Homo sapiens: one gene and its partners. The protein of the gene in region 7 interacts with the protein of the main gene of each other region in a biochemical or structural test. Each region holds a gene or a part of one and is shown on either strand. Other genes may lie near its edges.

Region 1 (3,403 bases), on a different chromosome or scaffold from region 7:
TGGTTACAGTCTTGGTGATGTGGCTGCGTCTGTGGGAGGATGTGGATGGATGATGACAGTGATGAACTGGCCAGGCCTGAGGCAACCCTCCCACTTAGATTTGGCTTTTAAAGTCTTCAAGCTCATTGAGGGCAGCTCATGAGACCTCTTGACTCTGGGTCCACTGCTCCTTTATATACACATATATGTGTATATATATGTGTGTGTGTGTGTATATCTATATATGTGTGTATATATATGTATCTATATATATATCTGTGTGTGTGTAACTGAGTTCAGTGTCTTGTCATGTTTTCTCCATGGGGGTTGTACAACTTAAGTTTGCCCAGTCCCTAGTTCAGTGAGTGCACAGCTGAAGCTCTGGGAGGGAACAGGCAAGATCTGGGTCTGGGGGTGAGAGGGCTCCCTCTGGTTCCCACTATCCAATCCTAACCAGTCTTACAGGGAACAAACACCGTACCTTTTATCACAGCGATTCCAAGAAACACACACACCACCACTGAAGGATATTTAACTTTTCTTAAAAAAAAAATCTTAACCATGAAAGGAAGAAAATAAAAGAGTATACATTATCTTAACAGCAGAACAGTCATTTCCATATCTATATTTTATATATTATATATATATTTATATATATATATATGTATATATACACCTAGCACAGTGTGTATATTCTATTCATCAGGGAGAGTTGGGTGAGGACGTGGTGATGGGGCCAATGCTGCGGTGGCCCCTTGGATGGTCCTGGGTGAATTCAGGGACTCGGCATTCAGACCCCTGTCCCCACCTCCTGGGGCCCAGTCCTCAGCTCCGTACCTGCTTCACTGGTTTTCTACAGGGACAGGGTGGGGAAGAGGGGGACATAGGTGGGGTAAGAAACCCCCATGATCCCCATCTTGTGAAGATGAGAAGTCCAGGGAGGGAGGGAGTAGCTTGGCAGCAAGCTGTGGAGGGCAGGCTCTGGAGCCAGGTGGGATGGGGAGCCAGAAGACCTTCCCACTCACAGGGACAGGAACACTCAGGCCTGGCTCCCGCTTTAGGCTCGATCCTGGAACTGGGTTGTTAACTAAGGAGATACAAGTGAAACCCCTCTTCCCTAAGCAGCTCCTTCCATAACTGCCTCCAGCACTTCAGGAACAGGAACAAAAAAGGTCAAAGTTATTTACAATAGCAAAGATGCACATACGATACATACATATTTATAGGAAACCAAAGTGACAAAGAGGGGAGGGGAGGCACCCACCTCTGCCTGGGGTCTTATGGAGAAAGAGGGGAGGAAGAAAGTGCATTTACACAGAAGCCTCCTCCTTTCACTTGCATGTCTGAGGGCAGCGCACATACAGGCGTGCGCGTGTACACACATATGTGGGGTGAGGGCAGACCATGGTGAGTGGGGGCCTTTCGGATGCAGTCAGCATGCTTAGGAGACATGAGGCCTTGGAGGGTTGGGCTAAGGGAGGGAAAAGACACTGAAACCTGACTCCGACTTGAGCAGACCAAGCAACATGCGGGTCTCCCCCCGGGCCTTGGCTGGATCCTAGTTTCCCTAACTGCCTCCTCCACAGGGAGGAGTGTTGGGATCCCCCCTACCCTGTGCCCCGGTCTCAGGCCAGTCCCTGAAGGAGGAGTGGGGACGCAGAGGATTTGGTGGTTTGTACGGTTATGGTCCTGGTGACGCGGCTGCGTCTGCTGTGCTGTCTTCCAGGGGGGCGTCAGAGCCTGTGGGAGGAGGATGAAGGTGAGGAACTGGCCAGCCTGAGGTGACCGCTTCCACATGTTTTGTCTAGAAAGTTCAGGCTCACGAGAACAGATCCTTCATCACCTTCCTTCTCCTCCAGAAACCCCAGTTTCTCGTAGGGCTTGAAAAGGGCTGTCTACTGAACTCCACTTTCATCAGCGCCTAAAGCCCTTAGGTCAGGTAGGTATGTGCCTTGTCTTCCTGAGTTATGACATAGCTGTGTCCCTGGCCCACCCAGTGTGGTTCTGAATCATTTAATCAGCACGAGTCTTAGGCCGACACCATGGTGTGCACCTGCAATCCCAGCTGCTTTGGAGGCTGAGGTGGGTGGATCACTTCGGCCCAGGAGTTTGAGACCAGCCTGGGCAACATAGCCAGGCCAGCCCTTGTCTCAAATAAATAGAAAAAAAAAAAAAAAAAATATATATATATATATATATATATATATAAAATTAAAAAAAGAACAAGTCTTAGAGGTGAGAACAGGCTCCTCCTGGTTTGTTACCTCCATAGCACAAGGAAAAAGAGGGCTCAGTGCTAAGCTCCCCATTTTGCCAGGGAGCTTCTGTGGGACTTCCCTAAAAAGATCCCTCTCTGAAGCTGAGAGAATGAACTCGTTTCACTCAAGGGGAAACCACTCTCAGAACCACCATCTCTCACTGCTTAGTGATGTGTCCTCACGAGTTGGCAGACTTCTCCCCCAATGGTAGGAACCGAGAGGGACCTGGCTTCACTCACCATCCTCAGGGCAGGGCCCCAGTTCATGGCTGTTCCTGGAGTCAGAAGCTAGGGGCTCCTTAGCGGGAGGTGAGAGGGAGCCATCTGTCCATCTAGCTGCTTCTGTGTGGAAACTGCCCACAGGCGTGGTGCCACCAGATGACTCTCCCCCAAGGGACTTGAGCAGCTCTCTGTGGGCCAGCTCCATATCCTGGAAGAGTCGGCGGGGGAATGTCTGCTCGAGTCCTTCTATTCCTAAGGCCCCTGGGGAAGGGGTCTGTGCTGGGCCTTGGGGAGGAGGGTGTGATTTAAGGGTGGCTGGGCGGGCTGGGGGAAGATCCCTGGGCCAGGACAGGATCTAGGGCTCCCGCGAAGACACACATCTCACTCATGGGGAATGGTTTTGGGGTGATGGACTGAAGGCCTGCAGGGACCCAAGCCCTGCTTCCCTCACCTTGAGCCTGTTGAGCTTGAGAGTGAGCTGCTCAATGGTATGGAAGATCATGCCCACGTCCCTGAGGGCCAGGCTTGGAGGAGAGCGGCTGGGGCGTCTTGGATCATCGTTGCCTCCCTGCAGCTGAGGCTGAGGCTCTGTCTGCCCTGCAGGGAGGCTGTCAGGCTGAGGGGGGCTCATGGGTGCCTCTGAGTGGTCGGTGCTTGAGTCCGGGGGTCCTGATGGCATGCTGACATAAAAGCAGTTCCCTGTCCCCACAGTAAGAGAATGAGATCAGGAGGCAAACAGAGAAGTCGAAGCTATCCTCCCGTTCCTGTGGGATTCCCCAGCCACCTGACAGAGCAGGCCAGGCAGTCCTCTCCAGACAAACTCAGAGAACGTGGGCCTTGCTCACTGTCTGCCAGCCCCCTAAAAGCCCTGCTCCCGAGACCTTCTAGATGACACTTGCTCAGTCTGGCCCCAAGCTGGGGGAGATGCTGAGCGATGAACTCAAG
Region 2 (4,203 bases), on a different chromosome or scaffold from region 7:
AAGGCTGTGGGAAGCAGATACTCACACAATCCCAGTGCCACATTTGTCACACATAGGCAACTTCTGAGCATTTCCAATCGACGCAGCCACTTTAGTGACAGGAGCTTTAACACTTCTGAATCCTGAGGGCTTGTTGGGATCCCCTGAAATGAGGAAAACACTGTCATTGGCCAGGAAGGGCAGAATTGCATAAGTATCACTCAGCTCTTCAGAACCACTTATAAATATATGTTCAAGCAAGGCCATGGGAACTGGAGTGACTCTGCTCTGTGATCCTGGGCAAGTAACTTAGCCTCTCTGGTCCCCAGTTTATTTTTCTATAAAATAGGAGATTAACACCTGGCCAAAGAAAAGCCCAAAAAGCCAAGACAATCCTAAGCAAAAACAATAAAGCTGGAAGCATCATGCCACCCAAATTCAAACTATATTACAAGGCTACAGTAATCAAAACGACATGGTACTGGTAGAAGAACAGAGAACAGAGAACCCAGAAACGAGACCACACACCCACAACCATCTGATCTTTGACAAACCTGACAAAAACAAGCAATGAAGAAAGGATTCCCTATTTAATAAATGGTGCTGGGAGACCTGGCTAGCCATATGCAGAAAATTGAAACTGGATCCCTTCTTTACACCATATATAAAAATCAGCTCAAGATGGATTAAAGACTTAAATGTAAAGCCCAAAACTATAAAAACACTACAAGAAAATCTAGGCAATACCATTCAGGACATGGGCATGGGCAAAGATTTCATGATGAAAACCCGAAAAGCAATTGTAACAAAAGCAAAAATTGACAAATGGGATCTAATTAAACTAAAGAGCTTCTGCACAGCAAAAGAAACTATCATCAAAATGAAGAGACAACCCACAGAATGCGAGAAAATTTTTGCAATCTATCCATCTGACAAAGGTCTAATATCCAGCATCTGCAAGGAACTTAAAACAAATTTACAAGAAAAAAATAAGCCGGGCACAGTAGCTCACTTCTGTAATCCCAACACTTTGGGAGGCCGAGGTGGGTGGATCACCTGAGGTCAGGAATTTGAGAATAGCCTGGCCAACATAGCCAAACCCCCTCTCTACTAAAATTACAAAAATTAGCCAGGTGTGGTGGCATGCACCTATAGTTCCAGCTACTCAGGAGGCTGAGGCAAGAGAATCACTTGAACCCAGGAGGCGGAGGTTGCAATGGGCTGAGATTGTGCCACTGCACTCCAGCCTGGGCAACAGAGCGAGACTCCATCTCAATAAAAGAAAAAAATAACCCCATTAAAAAGTGGGCAAAGAACATGAACAGACAGTTTTCAAAAGACATACATGCGGCCAACAAACATGAAAAAAAGCTCGACATCACTGATCATTAGAGAAATACAAATCAAAACCACAATGAGATACCGACTCACGCCAGTCTGAATGGCTATTATTAAAAAGTAAAAAAACAACAGATGCTGGCAAGGTTGTGGAGAAAAAAGAACGCTTTCACACTGTTGGGATGTAAATTAGTTCAAACATTGTGGAAGACAGTGTGGTGAGTCCTCAAAGACCTAGAAGCACAAATACCATTCAGCCCAGCAATCCCATTACTGGATGTATACCCAAAGGAATATAAATCATTCTATCATGAAAATACATGCACTCTTACGTTCATCACAGCACTCACTATTCATGATAGCAAAGACATGGAATCAACCTAAATTCCCATCAATGATAGACTGGATAAAGAAAATGTGGTACGTATACACCAGGGAATACTATGCAGCCATAAAAAGGAACGAGATCTTGTCCTTTGCAGGGACATGGATGGAACTGGAAGCCATTACCCTCAGCAAACTAATGCAGGAACACAAAACCAAATACCACATATTCTCACTTGTAAGTGGGAGCTGAATGATGAGAACAGATGGACACATGGTGGAGGGACAAGACACACTAGGGCCTGTCAGATGGTGGGGAGTGGGGGAAGGAGAACATCTGGAAGAATGGCTGATGGATGCTGGGCTTAATATCTAGGTGATGGGATGATCTGTGCAGCAAACCACCATGGCACGTCATTACCTATGTAACAAACCTGTGCATCCTACACATGTACCCCTGAACTTAAATGTTGGAAATTTAAAAATAAATAAAGTTCTTAGAAAAGAAATCCACATCACAGATAGAACAAAACCATCAGAATACAGCATGCTACAGCAGGCAGATAACAATCATCTCCTACAGAGCAGAGGAAGGAGCCTTTCTGTAGTCAGCCTGGTGCGTGTAAAATAAGCCCCTAGTAGCTAGATGCTGAGCTGCCTAAGGCCCCACTCATCACATCTTAGGTAACAAAGCCCTGTACCATGGTAGCTATTAATAATGGTAAAAATCACCTGGAGGCCTTGTTAACACACAGATTGCTGGGCCCCACCCCCAGAGTTTCTGAGCCAGAAGGCCCAGGATGGGGCCTAAGACTGCATTTCCAACAAGTTCCCAGGCGCCACTGATCCAAGAACCACTGGACAAGAGCAAAGAAACAGCTTCCTGTGCCAGGTGAGGGGATGAAGAGAGGGTCACCCCATGACTGCAGTCACGTCGGGCAATCGCGGGGCTGACAGACAAGGGCCTTAGCTCTCTTGTTCTTTCAGAAAGTGAGTCCCTGTATGCTGACCAATCCTTCCGAACCAAAAATTGAGACACATGTTCACACAATGGACATTTATTAATTGTTTATTTTTACTGATTAGAGATAGCATCTCGCTATGTTGTGTCTCAAAGTCCTGCCCTCCAGCGATCCTCCCACCAGAGCTTCTCCAGTAGCCACTGTGCCTGGCAACAAGGGGCATTTAGAATACATGGTTGACTGTATTTTGACCACAATTACCCCGCCCCTCTCTTGCCATGCTTACCTCCAGTCAGTGGTTCCCTACTGGGGGCAGTTTTGTCTCCTAGAGAGCAGTTTCGATTGTCACAGTGAAAGGGGATGCCACTGGCGTCTAGTGGGCAGAGGTCAGGGATGCTGCTGAACATCCCAAAATACACAGGGCAGCCCCACAACAAGGACTCATATGGCCCAAAATGTCAATAGCACCAAGGCTGAGAAACCCTGCTCTCGATGGAGTAGACTTCCCCATCCTGACTTTAGCCAACGTGAGCAGATGTGAGCCTTATACAGGCAAAAGCACTAAGGGCACTTGTGTGGTTTGGCCCTGTTCCCACAGAGGTATTGCCTCTGCCATGAAAACAGCAAGCACCAGAGTGCCTCTCCCTTCCCTGGGCTTGAATGAGAGGACTCGGGGCCTGGTCCAGCCCTGCCAAGCCCAGCAGAGCCACAGCTATCCGGTAGCCCTCATAAATACAGATTACCCACTGCTGAATAATACAATATGAGAGATGGTTTGGGGTACTTGGCTGGCTTATGGGGAACAACAAGAGGGTATATGTGAATGCAGCCTGAACTCTCAATAGCCCTATCATGCTGCCATGGCTCAGACTTAGGCTTCCCCCCTCAGAGCTGGGACTATTCATCGCTGGGAACCGATGCACACAGATGTCCACCTGGCAGCACATGAGATGGGGCTGAGATTAGGAGGCTCCATGGTTTTAAGTGGTGAGCTCTACAGATGGGCTTGGGGAAGACTCAGTTCTGCCCCACCAGCAGGTGCATAAGGAGAAACCACCTTGGTGCTTCTGTTCTCCCCGAGCCTAGGGCAACTTCTTGCCCTTCCCAAGCCTTCCTCCCTTCCTTTGGGAGGAGGCCAAAGTTCCAACTTTGTTCACCATATATTTTACCTGTATTAATTTTTTTAATATTGCATTTAAATGTCATTTTTTTTCATGATTATTGAGTTTTCCAGTGCCCCCTTAAATTCTGCACTCAAGGCCGGGCGCAGTGGCTCATGCCTGTAATCCCCAGCACTTTGGAAGACCAAGGCGGGCAGATCACTTGAGGTCAGGAGTTCGAGACCAGCCTGGCCAACATGGTGAAACCCCATCTCTACTAACAATACAGAAACTAGCCGGGCATTGTGGGACGTGCCTGTAGTCCCAGCTACTTGGGAGGCTGAGGCAGGAGAATGGCTTGAACCCGGGAGGCGGAGGTTGCAGTGAGACGAGATCACGCCACTGCACTCCAAACCTAGGCGACAGAGGTCTCAAAAAAAAAAAAAAAATTCTGCCCTCAAAGCAGTGCCTCCCTCACCTCACCCTGATCCTGGCCCTTC
Region 3 (4,203 bases), on a different chromosome or scaffold from region 7:
TTGAGAAAGTTTATTCTAACTGATAAATATTGTGAAATCTGGTCTACTTTAATATGAAAAATTTAAGATAAATTATTACCACATTTATAAAGATTTCTAAACTAGGATCTCTACACCAGAGGTCAGCAAATGTTTTCTATAAAAGTTACATAGTAAACATTTTAGACTTCACAGGCCATAAGGCCTCTGTCACAACTACTCTGCTATTACACCAGAATAGCCATAGACAACACATAAACAAATGGCATGACTGTGTCCCAGTAAAACTTTTTTTTTTTTTTAAGGCGGAGTCTCGCTCTGTGAGACAGAGTGTCACTCTTGTTGCCCAGGCTGGAGTGCACTGGCGCGATCTCGGCTCACTGCAAGCTCCGCCTCCTGGGTTCACGCTGTTCTCCTGCCTCAGCCTCCCGAGTAGCTGGGACTACAGGCGCCCACCACCACGCCCGGCTAATTTTTTGTATTTTTAGTAGAGACAGGGTTTCACCATGTTAGCCAGGATGGTCTCGATCTCCTGACCTCGTGATCCGCCCGCCTCGGCCTCCCAAAGTGCTGGGATTACAGGCGTGAGCCACCACGCCCAGCCAAAACTTTATTTACAAAAACGAGCAAAGAGACCACCAGATTTGGCCCTGGGCTGTAGTTTGCTACCCCCTGCACTATACTGTAAATGAGGGGTTTACAAACTTTTTTTTGTGAAGGGCTGGGTAGTAAATATTTTCGCCTCTGCAATCTACATATAGTCTCTGTCACAAATTCTTCTGGTTTGGTTTTGTTTTCTTTTCTTTTTTAACCTTTTAAAAGGTTAAAAAACAGAACTATTCTTTGCTCCAGACCATACAAAAATAGGCTGTTGGCTAAATTTGGCCCATGAGCTTTAGTTTGGGGACCCCTGCTATAAATTATTCATTTCATGGGTAATTGGGGAAGTTGCTGTTTACTTGGCACTGTACTGGGCTAACCTCAGAGGTACGTTGAAAAATAAAACATGATTCTTCAAGTTGGGAACTCTTAATTCTGTATGCATGGACGCAGTAGTCTAATATTGTGATGACCAAAAATGAATATGTATACTTAACCTTATTCATTTCAACTCTCATCTTTACATTTTCATTTAAAATCAGTTCAAGAAAAATACTTGCCAGGCATACCTCTGGTCCATCCCAGCTGCTGGGGAGGCTGAGGCGGGAGGATCACTTGAGCCCAGGAGTTAAAAGCTGCAGTGCATCATGATCGTGCCTGTAAATAACCACTGCACTCTGGTCTGGGCAACAGAGTGACACCCTGTCTCGAAAAAAAAAAAAATATCTAACATTTTAAAATTTAAAAAGAAAAATTCTAAGGAAATTTTGCTAAGCATTAGAGTTTCTTTACTGTGTCTTCTGAGTGTTAACTAAATACTTACAAGGAATATAGTGATGAATGATGATAATATTGTTTTCCTCACGATGTTATTTGGCATGAACACTTGTGGTACGTGCTCTGTAGTTTCTCACAGGCAATAATAACTTGAAACAGAGAGAAGATAGTTTTTCTGGCAAGCCTTCTAATTGTACGTTATCTCCAATTTTAGGTGGACACTCTTGAAGCCATCTCTAATCAAGTGTTTAGCTGTCTCATCGTCTGTGAGCAATGAAGAGATTTCTCAAGAGCATATCATTATAGAAGCAGCTGACAGTGGTCGTGGAAGTTGGACTTCGTGTTCAAGCAGCTCCCATGACAACTTCCAAAGCCTTCCAAACCCAAAAAGCTGGGATTTTTTGAACTCTTACAGACATACCCATTTGGATGACCCCATTGCTGAAGTTGAACCCACTGACTCTGAGCCCTATTCCTGTTCTAAAAGCTGCTCTAGAACTTGTGGGCAGTGTAAAGGAAGCCTAGAGAGAAAGAGTTGGACCTCCTCCAGTTCTCTGTCTGACACGTATGAACCAAACTATGGGACAGTTAAACAGAGAGTATTGGAGAGCACCCCAGCTGAGTCATCTGAAGGCTTGGACCCCAAGGATGCCACTGACCCAGTTTATAAAACTGTCACTTCAAGTACAGAAAAGGGCTTGATTGGTAAGTTGTGTTTTTGTTGTCTGTGGCATTTAGAGATTAAGTAGTCAAAAAATGGCATTGGGATATCTTGGCCCTGGATTTTATCGTCGCAAAAATTCATTCTCTAACAACCTTTCTTTCCTTCACAAACAAACAAGTTATTTCCCAAAAATTCATGGTTTCTCAAAGACTTTGGAGCAGCTATTCAACCCCATTAAAATGAAAAGTCTGATGTGAAGGTATTTAATTAGAGGGACAAGTTTGTTTGTCTTTTGTTTTTAAGTTCTTTTTGGTTTTATTGAGGAATATCATCGCATTAGTGTGCAATAGTAGTAAAGGGATTATTCTCTTTATCACCTCATAAATTGTTTGGACCACAATTGGTATGCATACGTGGTAGAAACATTGAATCTGCTATTGATTTTAGGTCGTAACAGTGAGAGAAAATGCAATCAGGAAGTCCAGAACATTTTTCAGTATACTCTCTTGGTGTACATCATGAGTGTGCCAACTCCTGTTTGTGAATTCCATTCCAAGCTTTCTTAGTAAACTTTTTTTTTTAGTATTTGGCCATCAAATACTTTTTAAAAATTTCTTTCCTAAACTATATAAATACGTGGATATAAAACTGCTTTTCTACTTATATGGAATGACTCTACTTTGAATTAATATCATAATCAACTGTTAAATTTATGCAACAGTCATGGTGTCGCATTTAACTACTAAAAATGTGAAGGTGAAATGTGCTGATTTTATAGTTACTTGTCAAATTGCATTATAGGTTGGGTTTTTAGCTCATTCATTTTTTTCCAACTTTTTTTTTTTTTTTTGAGATGGACTCTTGCTGTATTGCCCAGGCTGGAGTGCAGTGGCATGACCTCGGCTCACTGCAACCTTCGCCTGCCAGGTTCAAGCAATTCTCCTCTCTCAGCCTCCCAAGTAGCTGGGATTACAGGTGCCTGCCACCATGCCCAGCTAATTTTTTTATTTTTAGTAGAGATGGGGCTTCATGTTGGCCAGGCTGGTCTCAAACTTCTCACCTCAGGTGATCCACCCACTTCGGCCTCCAAAGTGCTGGGATTACAGGCGTGAACCACCGCACCTGGCCAGAAGTAAAGTTCTTGAAGGAATTAGTTCCTCCGTACCAGCAAAGTTAAAGTTTATATGCTAGGACTGAGAACTAATCTGCCCAGGAGTGCCAGAAAACATTGGTTCATGTCTCAGAGAGAAGGTGAAACAGCCCTTAAACAGATGGCCCAAATGTCATTTCTATGTAAAGTCTCCCAGTTTACAGAGAATCGGTGTGTAGGGTGAACTTTTAAATGTTTCTGATATCTTTAGGGCTGGTGTGACTTCAGGAGTTGTCATGTACTTCTGTGATATGGGGGCTGAATTGCAGAAGGAAGCTTGTCATCAGTGTCATCTCCTTCAACTCTCTCGTTCTATTTAATGTTTACAGGACTTAATATAGTTGTTTATGTATTTTAAAAAGAGGTTTGTTTATTAAACTTTTAAAAAATGTTTTTGATCTGCCATCATTCAAGTTTATTCATTTTGTCTATTTTTAAGTTGTATTTTGTCATTGTAATAAGTTTGTGGGGTGGTTTCTTTTTTTTTCCATTTCTTTTTCATTAACATTTTCATTGCTTATTTTTCATGCCAGTGTACTGTGTCACCTCACCCAAGAAGGACGATAGGTATAGGGAGCCACCTCCCACTCCTCCAGGATATTTGGGGATTTCTTTAGCGGACCTAAAGGAAGGACCCCACACACACCTAAAACCTCCAGATTATAGTGTGGCAGTGCAGAGGTCAAAGATGATGCATAACAGCCTCTCTAGACTGCCACCAGCTTCTCTCAGTAGCAACCTCGTGGCCTGTGTTCCATCGAAGATTGTAACTCAGCCTCAGAGGCATAATTTGCAGCCATTCCATCCTAAACTAGGAGATGTGACTGATGCAGATAGCGAAGCAGATGGTATGTTGACAAGCTCTCTTAAAGGCTCTTAAATGAATTGCTGAACACATTAAATGGTCTTTACTTTGGTATTTTATGGTAATTAGTAATTGTTTCTTTAAATGCCTTGAATCTCTGTTAAAAAGTAAGAAGTTCCTGCCGGCAGGGTGCAGTGGCTCACACCTGTAATCCCAGCACTTTGGGAG
Region 4 (4,203 bases), on a different chromosome or scaffold from region 7:
TGTCTGATATTTTACAGCTTTGAATACTTTCAGAGACATACAACCCTTTGCAAGTTGGTCTGTGCTAGGAACGGTTATTACCATTTTTTAAACTGTTGCAAATGTGTACTCTCTGACAACTTTGTTAACAACAGCTTTGAAGAAGAAAAGTAATTTTTGAGCGTGTTATTTCAAGCTTAGCCTTACTCTGGGCTTTGCTGGATCGGATATAAGAAGTATCCTGTTTCTATTAGCTAAGTAGTTGGAGAATAACTGATGGAATTATTAACTACACCAAACTAAACTAAGAAAGTAATCCGAATAAAAAGATGACAGTGTTTTGACTATTTCTAATAAGCCTAAGACATAGAAAACTTTTATAAGAACAAAATGAACTTCAAACTCATGCTCAAAAATAAGGGTCAAATGAGATCATTATGTATAATAGGACTCCTGTTTTCCCCTTGTTTTCTGGCTCAACCTTGAGAGTGGTCGTCTTAGACTACTGTGAAGAGTATTTATAAAGTATCTTTGAGAATCTTCAAGATGCTATGATGGCTTTTCATATTTAAAACTGTGTGATCTTTAAGGTTTCTGGAATTAGTCACCAAAGGTGTGTATAATAAAACTTCTCAATAAATGTAATCCAGCATATAAACAGAACCAAAGACAAAAACCACATGATTATCTCAATAGATGCAGAAAAGGCCTTTGACAAAATTCAACAGCCCTTCATGCTAAAAACTCTCAATAAATTAGGTATTGATGGGACGTATCTCAAAATAATAAGAGCTATCTATGACAAACCCACAGCCAATATCATACTGAATGGGCAAAAACTGGAAGCATTCCCTTTGAAAACTGGCACAAGACAGGGATGCCCTCTCTCACCACTCCTATTCAACATAGTGTTGGAAGTTCTGGCCAGGGCAATTAGGCAAGAGAAGGAAATAAAGGGTATTCAATTAGGAAAAGAGGAAGTCAAATTGTCCCTGTTTGCAGATGACGTGATTGTATATCTAGAAAACCCCATTGTCTCAGCCCAAAATCTCCTTAAGCTGATAAGCAACTTCAGCAAAGTCTCAGGATACAAAATCAATGCATAAAAATCACAAGCATTCTTATACACCAACAACAGACAGAGAGCCAAATCATGAGTGAACTCCCATTCACAATTGCTTCAAAGGAATAAAATACCTAGGAATCCAACTTACAAGGGATGTGAAGGACCTCTTCAAGGAGAACTACAAACCACTGCTCAACGAAATAAAAGAGGATACAAACAAATGCAAGAACATTCCATGCTCATGGGTAGGAAGAATCAATATCGTGAAAATGGCCATACTGCCCAAGGTAATTTACAGACTCAATGCCATCCCCATCAAGCTACCAATGCCTTTCTTCACAGAATTCGAAAAAACTACTTTAAAGTTCATATGGAACCAAAAGAGAGCCTGCATCACCAAGTCAATCCTAAGCCAAAAGAACAAAGCTGGAGGCATCACACTACCTGACTTCAAACTATACTACAAGGCTACAGTAACCAAAACAGCATGGGACTGGTACCAAAACAGAGATACAGATCAATGGAACAGAACAGAGCCCTCAGAAATAACGCCGCGTATCTACAACTATCTGATCTTTGACAAACCTGAGAAAAACAAGCAATGGGGAAAGGATTCCCTATTTAATAAATGGTGCTGGGACCACTGGCTAGCCATACATAGAAAGCTGAAACTGGATCCCTTCCTTACACCTTATACAAAAATCAATTCAAGATGGATTAAAGACTTAAACGTTAGACCTAAAACCATAAAAACCCTAGAAGAAAACCTAGGCGTTACCATTCAGGACACAGGCATGGGCAAGCACTTCATGTCTAAAACACCAAAAGCAATGGCAACAAAAGACAAAATTGACAAATGGGATCTAATTAAACTAAAGAGCTTCTGCACAGGAAAAGAAACTACCATCAGAGTGAACAGGCAACCTACAAAATGGGAGAAAATTTTCCCAACCTACTCATCTGACAAAGGGCTAATATCCAGAATCTACAATGAACTCAAACAAATTTACAAGAAAAAAACAAACAACCCCATCAAAAAGTGGGCGAAGGACATGGACAGACACTTATGCAGCCAAAAAACACATGAAAAAATGCTCACCATCACTGGCCATCAGAGAAATGCAAATCAAAACCACAATGAGATACCATCTCACACCAGTTAGAATGGCAATCATTAAAAAGTCAGGAAACAACAGGTGCTGGAGAGGATGTGGAGAAATAGGAACACTTTTACACTGTTGGTGGGACTGTAAACTAGTTCAACCATTCTGGAAGTCAGTGTGGCGATTCCTCAAGGATCTAGAACTAGAAATACCATTTGACCCAGCCATCCCATTACTGGGTATATACCCAAAGGACTATAAATCATGCTACTATAAAGACACATGCACACGTATGTTTATTGCGGCATTATTCATAATAGCAAAGACTTGGAACCAATCCAAATGTCCAACAATGATAGACTGGATTAAGAAAATGTGGCACATATACACCATGGAATACTATGCAGCCATAAAAAATGATGAGTTCATGTCCTTTGTAGGGACATGGATGAAATTGGAAATCATCATTCTCAGTAAACTATCGCAAGAACAAAAAACCAAACACCGCATATTCTCACTCATAGGTGGGAACTGAACAATGAGAACACATGGACACAGGAAGGGGAACATCACACTCTGGGGACTGTTGTGGGGTGGGGGGAGGGGGGAGGGATAGCACTGGGAGATATACCTAATGCTAGATGACGAGTTAATGGGTGCAGCACACCACCATGGCACATGTATACATATGTAACTAACCTGCACATTGTGCACATGTACCCTAAAACTTAAAAGTATAATAATAAGAGGGGAAAAAAAAAAACCTTAAAAAAATAAAAAAATAAAAAAACTTCTAAGGCAACTTGTAACTCCCCAAATAAATGCATAATAGGACTTGGTTCAACATTGTGAACATTAATTTTAAAAATTAATGTTTTTTCGGTGAAGTCCTACAGTGAAACCATATAGGGGAATGCGCTGCTTGAAATAAATATGTATATGCACATGTATTACCTCTACCTCCATGCTGAGGGAATCTTAATTCTTAGAGAAATGTTCTTTAGTTTACAAGTGAATTTTAACTACAATCCTATTCTCTACTAACACTTCAAAAAACAATCTACGTTGCCACATATTTAAACTGCTTTCCATTTCTAGAACAGAGAAATTAGAACATGAAGGTTTGACTACAACTGATTCCTTAGACTTCTATACTGCGCAACTACATAATGTGATTTTTTAGAAGTAATTTTTTATGATAGGCAAAATTCTCAATTTTAGCTGCTCTTCAAATAATGAAGACACAATCAACAAAGTAATACTTCATTTGTTAACTAAGCTCAAGATGTCAAGATGTCAATGTTAAATTGAAAACAGGATGCATAACATAGCCCATCTCCCTAAAATAACAATGTTTTTCTATTTTATCTTAGGATCATTTTGTAATATATAAAGAAAGTTAAATCACCTTAATTTTATAACAGAAAATTTTAGAAATTCAAAAATATATGGAAAATAAGCAATATACTCCCAAATAACCAATGGATCAAACAAGCAATCACAAGTGAAAGAAAATACTTTGAGAGGAGATGGTGCTGTTGAAGAGCACAGTTACAGACAGAGCTGACCAGGCTCTTCCAGAGTGCCAGTTGTCCAGCAGCATGTTCATTACCCTGAAGATGTATGATGGTTGAACTAAACCCATTCATTCTAAGAAAAGGTTCTGTGGAGGGCTTTAAGCCCTTGATAATTGTCTTAAAAGCTACTGATGGGAAAAAGATCAGCACTGTGGTGAGCACTGAAGAGCTGAATCATATGGCTAATTCAAACATATTAAGAGCTAACATGGATGGGCTGAAGAATAGGGACAAAATGAGTAAGAGTAAGCAGCACAGTGAAGGGCACTACATTTCTTGCTTTCCCCAACTAATGGATGAATTGCTATTTCTTCTTCGGTTTTTACTTTTGGTCACAAAGATGGGTTCCCGTTCTGCCATATTAACTGTACTCATGTAAGGTTTAAGGTCATTGTGGAGGGAAGAAGGGTTGGAACAGCACAGTTGTTGTAAGAAGCCAGTTTATTATTTTAGATCTGGCTAACTGGTCTGTGTTGCA
Region 5 (4,203 bases), on a different chromosome or scaffold from region 7:
AGGTGTATTAGCAGTTCTGTAGTTATGTTAGAAAATGTCCAGTTTTTAAGAAATGCATAGAGAAATATTAGGAATAAAATGATGTGATCGATGTTTGGCATGATAGGTGAAGCAAACATGGCAAAGTCCTGATAACTAGTTAATGTGGATAATGAGTATGTGGGGGTTACTATACTATTTTCTCTAATTTTTTTGAGGTTGAAAATATTTATAAGAAAAAGTAAAGACAGGCTGGGCACAGTGGCTCATGCCTGTCATCCCAGTGCTTTGGGAGGCTGAAGTGGGAGGATTGCTTGAGCCCAGGAATTGGAGACCAGGTTAGGCAACACAACAAGACCCTGTCTCTATGAAACACTAAAAATTAGCTAGCAACTCGAGAGGCTAAGGTGGGAGGATCACTTGAGCCCAGGAGTTTGAGGCTACAGTGAGCCATGATCATGCCACTGTACTCATCTGGGCAACGGAGTGAGACCCTGTCTCTAAAAATAATAATAATAATAATAATAGTCATCCACTATACCCACTCTATCTTCCTAGCCTTATCTTCCATTCCTGCCCTATTTCTCTATGACACAGCCACCCTACGTACTTGCTCAAGTTTTTTCCAGTCTGAACTTCATCCCTTCACTTATTCATGAAGTCATTCATTTGAGTAGTCAACAAATATTTATTAAGTATCTCTTCTATGCACTAGGCACTGTAAATTCAAAGATGACTGAGAAGGAGAAGGACAGGAAGCCTCCTTCATCTTTTGTATTATCCACAGCAACTAGCACAGTGCCTTGTACATAATTGGTGCTCAATAAATGTTTTATGAACTAATGTGCAGGGGGAGATGCGATAGAATCCCTGTCTAATATGAATCAACAAGTATTTGGTCCAATTCAACATATGCCTATTGAGTACCTACTGTGTATTAGGCACATATGCTATGGGGATTTAAAAAAATTAAAAAAAAAGATGTACTTGCCAAATGTATTTTTATTTATTTATTTATTTAGAGACAGGGTCTCACTCTGTCACCCAGGCTGGAGTGCACTGGTGCGACCACAGCTCACTGCAGTCTCGACCTCCCGTGTTCAAGCCATCCTCCCGCCTCAGCCTCTCTGTAGTCCCGAGTAGCTGAGATAACAGGTATGCACCACCATACCCAGCTAATGTTTTAGTTTTTTGTAGAAATAGGGTCTCGCTATGTTGCAAGGGCTGGTTTCAAACTCCTGGGCTCAAGCTGTCCTCCCACCTCAGCCTCCCAAAGTGTTAGGATTACAGGCCTGAGCCACCACACCCAGCCCCAAATGTATTTTAGAGACGGAGGAGTTGAGAGGAGAGAGAGATCACTTTAGTCTAAAATGATCAGAGAAGATTTCACAGAGGAGGTGAATTTGAATGTAGAGCTGAAGGATAGGTATAGTGATATGGAATAGGAGAGAAGCATAGGCAGAAAGGAAAGGGCATTCCTGGTGAGTGAAATGGAATGAACAAAAACATAGAGGCAAAAAAAATGTACAAGGTACGTTTAGGAGATCCTGGGGTAAGAAACTTGGCTGGAGTAGAAGGGTCCATGTAGGGCTTTGTTTCACAAGTAGATCAAGTGTATCAAAATCACTTGGGGAGCTTGTTAAAATGCATATTCCTGGACTCCAGCTTCCAGACCTACTGAATCAGAAGCTCAGGAGGTAGGACTCAGGAATCTGCATTATAACAAGTTCCCTCAAGCAATTTTAAGACACATTAAAATTTGAGAATCAATGATGTGGACCAAGCATGAGAAATAGGGTTGGAAGAATATACAGGGTTAGGTCCACACAAGGAGAACTTTGAATGCCAGGCTAAGGAGGCTGAAATTTATCCCACAGGCAATCAGGTATCACCCTCCAAGGATGATGATCAGAAGCATTATGAATAAAGGATATTCCACAACATTAATCTAGCAGTTGTGTGTATTATGGACTGGAAAGGAAAGAGACTAGTGCAGTGTGGCTGTGAGGTGGTGGCAGGAGTCAGGGTGGACTGGGGCATAGGGGATGAGTCAGAGATGGCTTTGAGGTTTCTAGACTGGGAGACAAGAAGCCTTATGGTAAAAGAAAGGTGAGAAGAGTGAGTCATCTCTGAGAAATAATGAGATGAGTTTGTGAATACTGAGTCTGAGAGCAAGCTATCCAAGAGGAAATGTTTAGCAAGCAGTTGGAAATATAGGACTGAACCTCAGGAGTGGGGTTAAGTTTGGGCTAGAGAAATGGGAATGGTTGGTAAAGAGGTGAGAAGGGAAGCCATGCATGCCTGTGTGTCCTTGTCAATAAAGAAAGTGGAAAGCAGGAGGAGCTGGAGAACACCCAGATTTGAGGGGTAGTAAGAAGAACTAGCAATAAAAGAGAAAAAAGGAGGGGTCACTTGGCTGGAAGGAGACCCAGATATTAGAACCTAGCAGAGAGTTCTTTCAAAAGCTGCGGGTGGCTAGTAGTGTGGCTAATGGCAAAGTGAATTTGAGGCACAGAGCAAAAACACTGGCTACGGCATGCATGCTGAGAAAGCTGCAAGAGTGCACACACCTGCTCATTCTCATGTTCCTTAACACAAACACACAGAAATAGACACACCTGCTCCTACAGATACACAAGTAGCACCTCTTTCCCTCTCTCTCCTTTCCCCGCCCCACGTTATACACATATTCCCATTTCCAGGCTCATTTTCTGACTACCAGGGATTGGGCACTAGTGTGCCACAGGCTGTTAATGTTCTGTTTTAAGGATGGTGCCTCAGGTCTCAGAAAAGGGTGCTCTGCCTGTCATGGGTGGGAAATAATACAGAACCCCAAGATCACTGTCCTTGCCTTTGGCAGCTCAGCTGAGGGGAGGAAAGGAGGGAAAATGGCATGTTTCTCTGGATTTGCTCCCTACCCTACCCCTTTGCCCCTAGCCCCAGGATTTCTCAGCAGACAATAAGGTCCACCCCATTTTGAGAGTCCTTCATTTTGGCTGCCGATAATGCAAGAGAATGTTTTTGTTTCTGAACTTATGGTAAAAAGGAAAATAGAAGTCCTTGAGAGAAGAGCCAGAACAGAATTTTCTGCTGGGAATGCTAATGGCCTTAAGGCTGCCCCACAAACAGAAGCTGACTTGAGTGTGCTTCCTCCCAGGGGGCCTGTCAAAGCTAAGGGTCTTCATCTAGTATCAATAGGTATCAATTCTAGTCCCCCTAGCAATGATTGCTAGGGCCTATATGTGAAGGCAAGAACCCCCCAAAACCAAGCTTGTCTGCATGAGCCTCTCTTTCCACAATTTGCCCCAGGTATGTGTTGGGGTTTGAGGGTGTGTCTGAGGGGTGTGTGTCTTGTGTGTGATATGTGTGTGTGTATTTGTGTGTATGTGTATGTATGTGTGTCTTATGGCTTCATTCAGTTAGCCTGGAGGTGCCACAAAAACAGGGATCTTTCCTCTGTTGCATTGGTGCTGCCCCTCCAAGTGCCTTATCAGGCATTAGCCACGGAGTCCAATCATTTATGCGTAGTGGGGGAGGGTGGGTACAGAGTGCTTCCGTTGTCCTGCATCCACCCATGCTCCCTCCAAGGGCTGAAGTAAGGATTACTGCGGTGGGGCAATTCCTCTCCTCTACTCATCCCACCCGAGACTCCTCTGTTACCCACCCCCACCCCCATCTCCAGCAAGCCTTTCCCAGCTTGCTGCTATCATCAGCAATCCCAGGGCTTTCTTGTTGCACTTTTTCAATCTACTACTGCTCCTAGAGGATGTCGTTGGTCACAAAATCCCCCAACTGGGCCACACAGCTCACTTCTCAAGACCCTCGGACTGCACCACTTACAAGAGGGAGGGGTCCCCTGACTCATTCCAAATGCAGCTCGCAGCCTCATAGGAGTCCCCAGACCTCTCCTCCAGTGGGGTAGAGGCTCTGTTGCACTATCCAAAGAAGCCATAGCACCAACAGCATCACGAGCTTATGTTGGAGGGGGCACTTACTGAGTTCAGGCCAATAGTCTGGCCACTCAGCAGAATGCCTCACATATCTGGGAAACCCTCAGGGCCAGAAGCCTGGGGCAGCTGCCACCCTCCCCTGGCCAGTCTCCTCTCCCTGGTGGCCTTCAGCCCACAACTGCAAGGCGGTTGTGGTGTTGGGTGCCAGCGAGAGATAGGGGATATTCTCTCCACATGCAGCAATGAGTGTTTCTTTCCTGCTTATATCTTATTC
Region 6 (4,203 bases), on a different chromosome or scaffold from region 7:
GGAAGCCCCGGACTTGGCTACAGGCCGGTCAGCATTGGCCAGGTTCTCAAAAGACTTGATCCGCTGCTTCACAGAGAAAAATGAGGTAGATTCATGGGGCCAGTTCTGCTCATAGCAGTAGTGTCGTCTGGTGACTTTGATTTTGTCTGTGACTAGGCAGCTCGTCTCCTGGACTGAAATGATATCCCCTTCATCTGTGGCTGGAAGATTCCTCGATGTGTCCAGCAGCGGCTTTACACTATATATGCCCTGTCCATTAGCCAGGCTGGGAAGACCACCTCTGGATGCCTTTGCCTCGGGGACAACACTGCTTGTCACAGGGACCTGGCTGTCCCGAGAGCGACCCAGGCTGTGTGGGGGGTGACCCTCCCGTCCAAAATGGCTTGAGAACTGGGCTGGCATGGAGTAGGTCCTGGTCGCTGGCCTTGGGGTGAAGTAGAGATGGTCCTCCCCCGAGGGGCCCCCTGGAATGCTGTTTCTGGGCACCCCTCGGGAGTCTGACATCAGGCTTGATTTTCCCTGGGAGTATTCTGCCTTTCTAATGGCTGTTTGAAGGGAGGAGGAGGAGGACGCCAGTTTTGCCATGCTGAATGATCGTGACATTTCCTGCTCTGCCTGGGAGGCATGAGATGGGAGTGAGGATGGATGACTTGTGGATGATTCTGCGACCTGGCGATAGAGCCTGATTTCACTCTTCTCCTGACAGTTGCCCTGGGCCAAGCACCCTCCCCGTCTGTCGCTTTCAGCTGGCTTGTTACCACATACAGTCTCTGACACTGCTTCAGCAGAAATCTCCACGATTTTCAGCTGGTTTGTTCTTTCGAGGCGATCGCTGGCCATTATGTTGCCTCCTTTTTCGCCAGTCGGCCTGGGTTGGGCTGTGTCTGCTGCCACATGGCTGGCCAGGCGCGGCTCACTCTGTCTGTTCCCTGCCACGGACATGCCGTTCCTAGACGCTGCCGGACTCACCGGCCCGGAGTCAGCACGGGGCGCCCTGCCCTCTGCTCTACACTTAGGAGATTTAGGGGTGGTTGGGCAACCTCTGTCGGGTTCAGAGAGGACAGCCATGTGGAACCTGCTCCACATGCCTTGCTCAGGAACAGGCTTGGGAGAGGTCAGGGGCGAGACAAATGTCCTGATGCTCGTGTCAGACACTGAGGGTTTCAGTGGCCCAGAGGTGGCAAGAGGTGGCTTGCTTTCCAGCACACACTGGGGGGACCTGGGGGCAGCTGTGGTGTTTCTGTCAGGGTCCTCGTGGTCGGCTACATGGAGCCGCTGTGACACTGCCTTAGAAAGTGTTTTGTGGGAGGTCTGGGGTGAGATCAAGGGTTTCCTGTGGTCCGTCCCCCCAGCCTTCACAGCATTCGCAGCAGGGGCCTCAGAGTTGACTTTGGCCTTGCCCTTGAGGCTGAGCCTCTTCAGCTTCGGACCACACTTTGCCTTCTGACCATTAGTCAGAAGCATTTCTGCCGGACTCTTCTTAGACAGGTCCTTATTTTCCAGGTTTGTTTTCGGCTGAGGAGGGCTATGAGGCACAGTAACGCCCTTTTTTTGGCTTGAACTCACCATCTGAATCTTGGAGTCGGGACTTCTGGCAGGCATTAGAGGTTGTTCCTTCTCGGTTTTGCTCCTCAAATGTGTGCCTTGGTTATGTTTATTTATTTCTTTAAACCAGGCCATGATGGGCCTCCTAGCGATCATTTTTGGTTTCTGTAGCAAGTCATCCAGGTCTTGACTTTCAGAGATGTGGAGGTTTTCCAAAACAGATTCTCCATTCTTAGGGACATCCACACTGAAGGAGGACAGACTGGCAGCTGCATTAATGCTTGTTTCGTATTGATTCAGGGTTTCGTCATCTAGCAGGTCATGTTCCAAGCCATTTACCATGTTGGGGGAGCTGAGAATGATGGGCGGACTGTGAAAATGCCTGGCTACTTTAGACAGCGGACTGTTTTCCATGGCTGAGCTAGCGCTGGTGACTTCTGTGGTTTCTTCTGCACACGAGGGCCTGTGGTTCTGTGAAGTGCTTATGTCCGCATGAGTTTCATGCTCCTGAGAGCTCATCTCCAAGAGTGATGATGGCTGGGAAGAGTCTGGGCCTGAAGTGTATGAGCCTGGCAAGCAGGCGGCCTTCTCACGGGGACTGGCCACCGACTCTCTCGGAGTGCTGTATTTTAATGACAGAACTTTGGCTGAGGCAGGACAGATGGCAGCCTGGGTGGGAAGATGAGCAGGACTCGAGGGTGGATTGGGGCAGCCACGTGTGGAACAAATCTCAATCTGTTCCTCTTCTGACTCCGAAGGATCTTCCTTGTGCAAAGACACACGGGAACGAGGAGGGGACCAGCCGTCCCTGGCAGAAGCTCGTGGGGCTTCAGTGAGTGACTCAGGGTCAGAAGAAGAATCCTCAGCATCGCCATACATGGATGACAGAGACGGCTCCGTGCTGTCACCCAGGCCTGATAGGGAGGTGCTGTCTTCATGAAAACTGCTAAAATTTCTAGAGTAGTTGCTCAGAAAGTTTTTGTTCACAGTAAAATGTTTGTCGGGATTAATTGAATCTAAAACCGAAGGCTGGGAGGCCCATTGTGGGTAGGCGGGGGCACCAGCAGCCCAGGCCCTCCTCGGGGAGGAGGTCTGGCCCCCCGGGACTGGTTCGGCACGGCAGGAGCTCCCACCTCCAGCCCCGGCTGGTGGGTGGCCCTGAGCACTGCCCTCCTGAGAGCCACTGTCCCCCGTCTGGGAAGACGGAGACCTTGCTGCAGAAGCATCCAGCTCCTTGATGAAGCTGTCAATGTCCGTCACAGGGCTCTCTCTACTCCCCCCTGGGCAGCAGTGCCCCGAGACATGGCCACATGCTTCTTTGGTGTTGTCAGTGGATGGCAGCATGGAGAGGCTGGCCTGCGGTGCCCTTGAGGACACAGAATCTGCTCCCTCCAGCAGGGAAGGCTCCTGGGAGCTTTCAGGTGCATGGATTCCTGTCATTTCCAGAGCCTTACTGTGGTTACCTGGAGCTCCCTGTCTCTGCTCCTGGGATGTGAGGGGGTCTCCTGGCAGGACAGCACCAGCTGGTGTCATTCCCTCTGCTCCAGGTCCCGCTCCCCTGAGGGCAGCCACCCTCCTGGTATTGTGGGGTGTGCTGGTTTCCGATGCTGATCGAGTCTTGCTGTAGTCAGGGGGAGCCGCTGCTTTCTCCCCCGGGGAGGGGCTGCCCTCATGGGGGAGCCTGACTGGAGACCTGGCCTTGCACTTGGTGACCCTGGGCGATGCAGGCTGGCTGGGATTCTCTGGCCGACTGACTTGCCCTGTGTCTACAGAGGTCTTGCTGGGGTCAGGATGAGCGGCCCCCTTCTTCCCTGGGGAAGAGATGAGGTCTGAGGAGCTGTCCAGTTCTACGTGGGGAACGTAAACAGAAGGTACATACACAGGAGAGGTTGTAGGGGAGATAAAAGGGATAATATAAGAAAGCAGCCCCTCAATTATTAAAAACTAGAAAATTATAAACAACCTCAAATATTTTTTTCTTTTTCAGAAAGCTGGGCGTGGTGGCGCATGCTTGTAATCCCAGCACTTTGGGAGGCGGAGGCGGGTGGATCACCTGAGGTCAGGAGTTCGAGACCAGCCTGGCCAACATGGTGAAACCCCATCTCTACTAAAAAAAAAAAAAAAAAAAAAAAAATTAGCTGGGCATGGGGGTGGGCACCTGTAATCCCAGCTACTTGGGAGGCTGAGGCAGGAGAATTGCTTGAACCTGGGAGGTGGAGGTTGCAGTGAGCCGAGAATGTGCCATTGCACTGCAGCCTGGGCAAAAAGAGCGAAACTCCGTCTCAGAAAACAACAACAACAACAACAACAACAAAACGGCGTTCTGTGGCCTAAATGGAGGCCCTTCTTGTCTTCCTGGTTTTCTCTCTAAAATTATAGAGTACCCACATCTAACAAATACCACCCTGCTTTAGACGCTCTAAGAGAACTCAGATTAGCCGGCAGAAGAAACATTTACATCTGCCCATTTTTCTCTCTTTTGGTATTTCTATGATGGCAGATGTTCCTACCACAAAGAAATGATACATTTGATGTGATGGATATGCTGATTACCCTGATTTAATCATTGCACACTTGGGTCTCTTTATGCCATTCACCCTCTGATGGCAAAGCCGCAAGCGTCAGGCTCTTGTTCTATTTGGTTCCCTACTCCTGCGT
Region 7 (4,203 bases):
TGTCTGAATGTGAATCCTGACTTGTAGTCTAAGTTCCCAGGGAGAGAAAAACTTTATGAAAAGAGTTGAAAATTCAATCAGAAGATAAAGGTCCACCTGTAGAACAGCAGTTCCTAGGATCAACTGCTTTCTAATTCTACAAACTTGCATTGTTTATAGTGGTGTTCTGTTAGAACTTGCTTTATGTACATGAGGTAGCAATGTACAGTCAACAATGTTCTTCAATATAATAGTGTCATCAGATAAATTCAGCATGTAACCTTTTAGAGTTTCATTCCCTCTGACAATAACTTATCACTATTATTCAATATCTTACTTATCTATACAATAATAGTATGTATAAAAAATGACTGCAGGCAAACATTCTAGGTTTTTGTGTGTTCAAAAAATGAATAGATCAATACTAGGGCTTACAAAACAAATTAACTGACCGGTTGCATTTTTTTGAATGCAATAGATCATTAAAAAAAATGATCTGGGCAGAGGCAACAGTAAAGTAAAGATTCAACCACATAATAGCCATGATTGAGTAATCAACTCACTTGTGATGCTGGAAACTATGTTTCATCTGGATACCCAGTTTCACCGAGAAAACTAAATTGGGCTGAAAATTGTGGTTGATCTGTTTGAGTAGAGGTTATTTTAGCTTGTGAGCAGTGACACGGTGCTCTGGGATTCTGGTCGTGTTGCTCCATCATATAAATTAACTGTCATGGACATTTTACTTTCCATGTAGGTAAAGATAATAAAAGGCTGAGGTTCACCACACAATGTCATGGAAAGGGACATATCTGTCAGCCCAGTGCACACCAGTTCAGACAATCCTCATGTCCACAAGCTTTATATCTATTCTAAATTCATAGGAGTGGGACAGAAGGTTCTGGATTAATGGAATCCTTAAAAAAAAAAAAAAACTGTCTTGTCTACAACCTGAAACTCTTCTGGAATCCAAATGGACTGGGAGCAAACTGGTTGGTTTTTGACAGAAATAAAAGGCCAAGGAAATAAGCAAAATTTATTTCCTTTCTTCAATAATTTTATAATCCAACTCAGGAGCACAGAGTCTCAAAGTCAGTAACCTCCCACAAGCCATCTACAGGCAAGATTTATAATCTGTATAAATAAGATGTATCATCTATATACGGATGTATTTATAACTTACAGCACTCTATTCCCCTGTCCTTCCTCCTTGTCAATCCTATACCTCACATCGTCCCAGAGGAAATATCTGGGAAGATTCTCTTAGCTGTGGCACTATGATTTCCTAGTGAATAGTTTTGTAATCTTAATTTACTAATCCCATCCTTCTATTCAGATGACCAGCAATTATGTGCCACTTATATTAAAAATTCAAAATAAGAAAATGAAAGTTAAAAAAGTAAATAGCCCTATCTGAAAGTTATATATGTAAACAAGAGTTCATGAAAGTTTTTTCTCCAATCACTGTAGTTGATCTTTTGAAAGTTCAGTTTCTTTGATCAACAATCAGTAAACCTCAAAGGTTAAACGTTGAAGAAAAAAAATCTGGAAAGAAAAGAGGTAGAAAACTTAAAATTAAAATGGACACAGCCCCTACTAGAATGAATAGAAACATTAACATAATCGGTCAAGAACACTTACTGGGCATATTCTGAAAAGATGCTTTGACAACTTTAAGCAGATGCCATAATCCTTAATCTCAATTAATTTCTGATAACCAGAGTTTGGAACATTACAAATAGATGCAGGCCAGGTGTGGTGGTTCACACTACCAATCCCAGCACTTTAGGAGGCTGAGGCAGGGGATTGCTTGAGCCCAGGACCATCCTTGAAACCCCATCTCTACCAAAAATACAAAAATTAGCCAGTCTCATAACCCGGTCTCAAAAAATAAATAAATAAATAAATACAAATAGATGGAAGTTAATAAGTCACTCGAGGGTAGCAATTTTCAGACTATAAAAGTTTGAGAAATCCAAGATGCTTAATATTTCAATGATGGGGAAGCAGTTTGGTCTGATGTGGAAAAAAACATAGACATTGAGACGGCTGAAACTCTATAGGAAAGAAAGCAAATGTGATGGAAACTTAGTCAGTTAGAAAAAGGAGAAAGTAGGAAAGTGTGAGTGTTTTGAGGCAGTGGAAAGCACAAACTGAGATTCAAATCATGCTGACAGTATCTCTCTACCCTGTGTAGGACACCTTTGTGCCTACAAAGGTAGGTGGATCAGTGGCCTATGACCCATCACTGATCCCAGGACCAGGTGGCTTCACAGATGAATTCTATCAAACATTCTAGGAATTAATGCCAATCCTGAGTTTAGAAACAGTTCTACATTATCATGTGTAATCAATAAATGATTTAATTCTTTTTTAAAAAAAGAAGCAGTTCTAAACTCAGTTTATGAGACCAGCATCACCCTGATACCAAAACCAGACAAAGACACCACAAAAAAAAAAAAAAAACCTACAGGCTGACATCCCTAATGAACACAGATGAAAAAATCCTCAACAAAATACTAGCAAACTAAATTCACCATCACATTAAATGGATTGTATATTCTAATCAATTCTGATTTATCCCTGGCATGCAAAGATGGTTCAACATATGTAAATCAATCAATGTAATACACCACATTAACAAAGTGATATAAAAAGGCCACATGATCATCAAAATAGAGCATAAAAAGCATTTGACAAATTCAACATCCTTGTGTGATTAAAAAAAAAAAACTCTCAACAAATTAGGTACAGAAAGAATTTACCCCAACACAATAAAGGCCATCTATGAAAAGCCCACAGCTAACATCATACCAAGTCATGTAAGACTGAGAACTTTTGCTCTAAGATCAGGAAAAAGACAAAGGTGGCCACTTTCAACACCTCTGCTTAACATAGTACAAGAAGTCTTAATCAGAGCCATTAAACAAGAAAAAGAAAACAAAAGGCATTCAAATCAGAAAGGAAGAAGTAATATTATCTCTGTTTGCCGATGACATAATCATATATGTATAAAACCCTAAAAGTGCCACAAAAAAACCTGTTCAAACTAATAAATGAATTCAGTTAAGAGGCAGGATACAAAAATCAACATATAAAATATCAGTCAGGTTTCTGTACACAAACAGCAAACTATCCAAAAAAGGAATTAAAACAAAATCCCATCCCCAATAACAATAAAAGGAATAAAGTATTTAAGAATAAACTTAACCAAAAATGTTAAAGACTTGCACACTGAAAATCATATAGCAACTTATTCTTTCATGATTATTGTTTTGCCATCTTTGCTCAAGAACTAATGGTAGCTTTGCTTGACAATTATATGAGATGCAGGTTTTCACTGTCATCACTTAATTTAACCTACCTCGTCCCATATTAATACATAACTTAGACTCTCCATACCAACCTAGTCATTTGACTACAGTCTCCCATGCACCATCTCCCCATTCCTCCTGCATATTTGGGGTTACTCTTCATAACCTGTTTCATGTCATTCCTCAGCTCTAATCATCAATGCCTCATTTGAACCTTGATGGTCCCGCCTGAGTGGTCTCACTGGTGGAAGACGATTATACAAGGACATGAGTAATTATACTTATCAATAGCAAACAGAAGTTTTTTCAATATTAGCCTCCTCCAGAAACTTTCTGCAAGAGCTGATTTTATTTCTTTTGCCTTCATTCTTTTTATAGCCAATAAGGTCAGTTTAAACAATAGTAGTCTGCAAATCATTTAGCTAATATTAAAATATTTGACAAATTATTTTAGTGGCACCTAAAATACTTCTCTTATGACAAATGAAAATCCAGAGGATGTTAAGGGCCAAAAATAACTGTAGTCACTGTCAATAAACAGACATTCCCCTGTGCTCCCCCCGTCCCCACTTTCCTTGCCCTTCGGTCCAGGCAAGTTTCAAATTCAGAAAAGTCAGTCTGGAATTATTTCATTCTACATTTCAGGACATAAGTGCAAAGGACAAGAGAAATGTATTTCTTTTCACTCAGCAAAGAAAGTCAGTGGTAAATGTGAGTTCAGTTCTTGCTTCTGCCATTTTCTCCTCTGTTCAAAACCAATCAAGGCCTGGATACTTGACCTGCTGGTTGGCAGGGGTCCTCTGTTGAGTGACCTGGTACTTGTCTGAAGATGAATGCAGGCAGGTAGGAGTCAGGGGAAGAGCCCCTCTCTGTGTGTGTGTCCGTGTCTGTGTGTGCATGTGTGTGTGTG

Evidence for each region.
Region 1: the proteins of CD226 (region 7) and ARHGEF11 interact in a test that uses a peptide from one of them, tested with the Homo sapiens proteins (one large-scale study listed by IntAct).
Region 2: the proteins of CD226 (region 7) and PDLIM1 interact in a test that uses a peptide from one of them, tested with the Homo sapiens proteins (one large-scale study listed by IntAct).
Region 3: the proteins of CD226 (region 7) and RAPGEF6 interact in a test that uses a peptide from one of them, tested with the Homo sapiens proteins (one large-scale study listed by IntAct).
Region 4: the proteins of CD226 (region 7) and PALS2 interact in a test that uses a peptide from one of them, tested with the Homo sapiens proteins (one large-scale study listed by IntAct).
Region 5: the proteins of CD226 (region 7) and FRMPD3 interact in a test that uses a peptide from one of them, tested with the Homo sapiens proteins (one large-scale study listed by IntAct).
Region 6: the proteins of CD226 (region 7) and PDZD2 interact in a test that uses a peptide from one of them, tested with the Homo sapiens proteins (one large-scale study listed by IntAct).

Annotation. Positions count from the first base shown.
Region 1 is NC_000001.11:156,934,340-156,937,742, forward strand, and holds the end of ARHGEF11 (rho guanine nucleotide exchange factor 11), read right to left. Parts: intron 3,158-3,403; coding exon 2,910-3,157; intron 2,667-2,909; coding exon 2,477-2,666; intron 1,906-2,476; exon of another isoform or gene 1,792-1,905; intron 1,720-1,791; coding exon 1,661-1,719; 3' UTR 501-1,660; downstream 1-500. UniProt on the Homo sapiens protein: May play a role in the regulation of RhoA GTPase by guanine nucleotide-binding alpha-12 (GNA12) and alpha-13 (GNA13). Acts as guanine nucleotide exchange factor (GEF) for RhoA GTPase and may act as GTPase-activating protein (GAP) for GNA12 and GNA13.
Region 2 is NC_000010.11:95,238,543-95,242,745, forward strand, and holds part of PDLIM1 (PDZ and LIM domain protein 1), read right to left. Parts: intron 144-4,203; coding exon 26-143; intron 1-25. UniProt on the Homo sapiens protein: Cytoskeletal protein that may act as an adapter that brings other proteins (like kinases) to the cytoskeleton. Involved in assembly, disassembly and directioning of stress fibers in fibroblasts.
Region 3 is NC_000005.10:131,428,717-131,432,919, reverse strand, and holds part of RAPGEF6 (rap guanine nucleotide exchange factor 6), read left to right. Parts: intron 1-1,570; coding exon 1,571-2,061; intron 2,062-3,703; coding exon 3,704-4,018; intron 4,019-4,203. UniProt on the Homo sapiens protein: Guanine nucleotide exchange factor (GEF) for Rap1A, Rap2A and M-Ras GTPases. Does not interact with cAMP.
Region 4 is NC_000007.14:24,674,089-24,678,291, reverse strand, and holds part of PALS2 (protein PALS2), read right to left. Parts: intron 1-4,203.
Region 5 is NC_000023.11:107,452,361-107,456,563, reverse strand, and holds part of FRMPD3 (FERM and PDZ domain-containing protein 3), read right to left. Parts: intron 1-4,203.
Region 6 is NC_000005.10:32,086,320-32,090,522, reverse strand, and holds part of PDZD2 (PDZ domain-containing protein 2), read right to left. Parts: intron 3,393-4,203; coding exon 1-3,392.
Region 7 is NC_000018.10:69,888,589-69,892,791, forward strand, and holds part of CD226 (CD226 antigen isoform a precursor), read right to left. Parts: intron 1-4,203.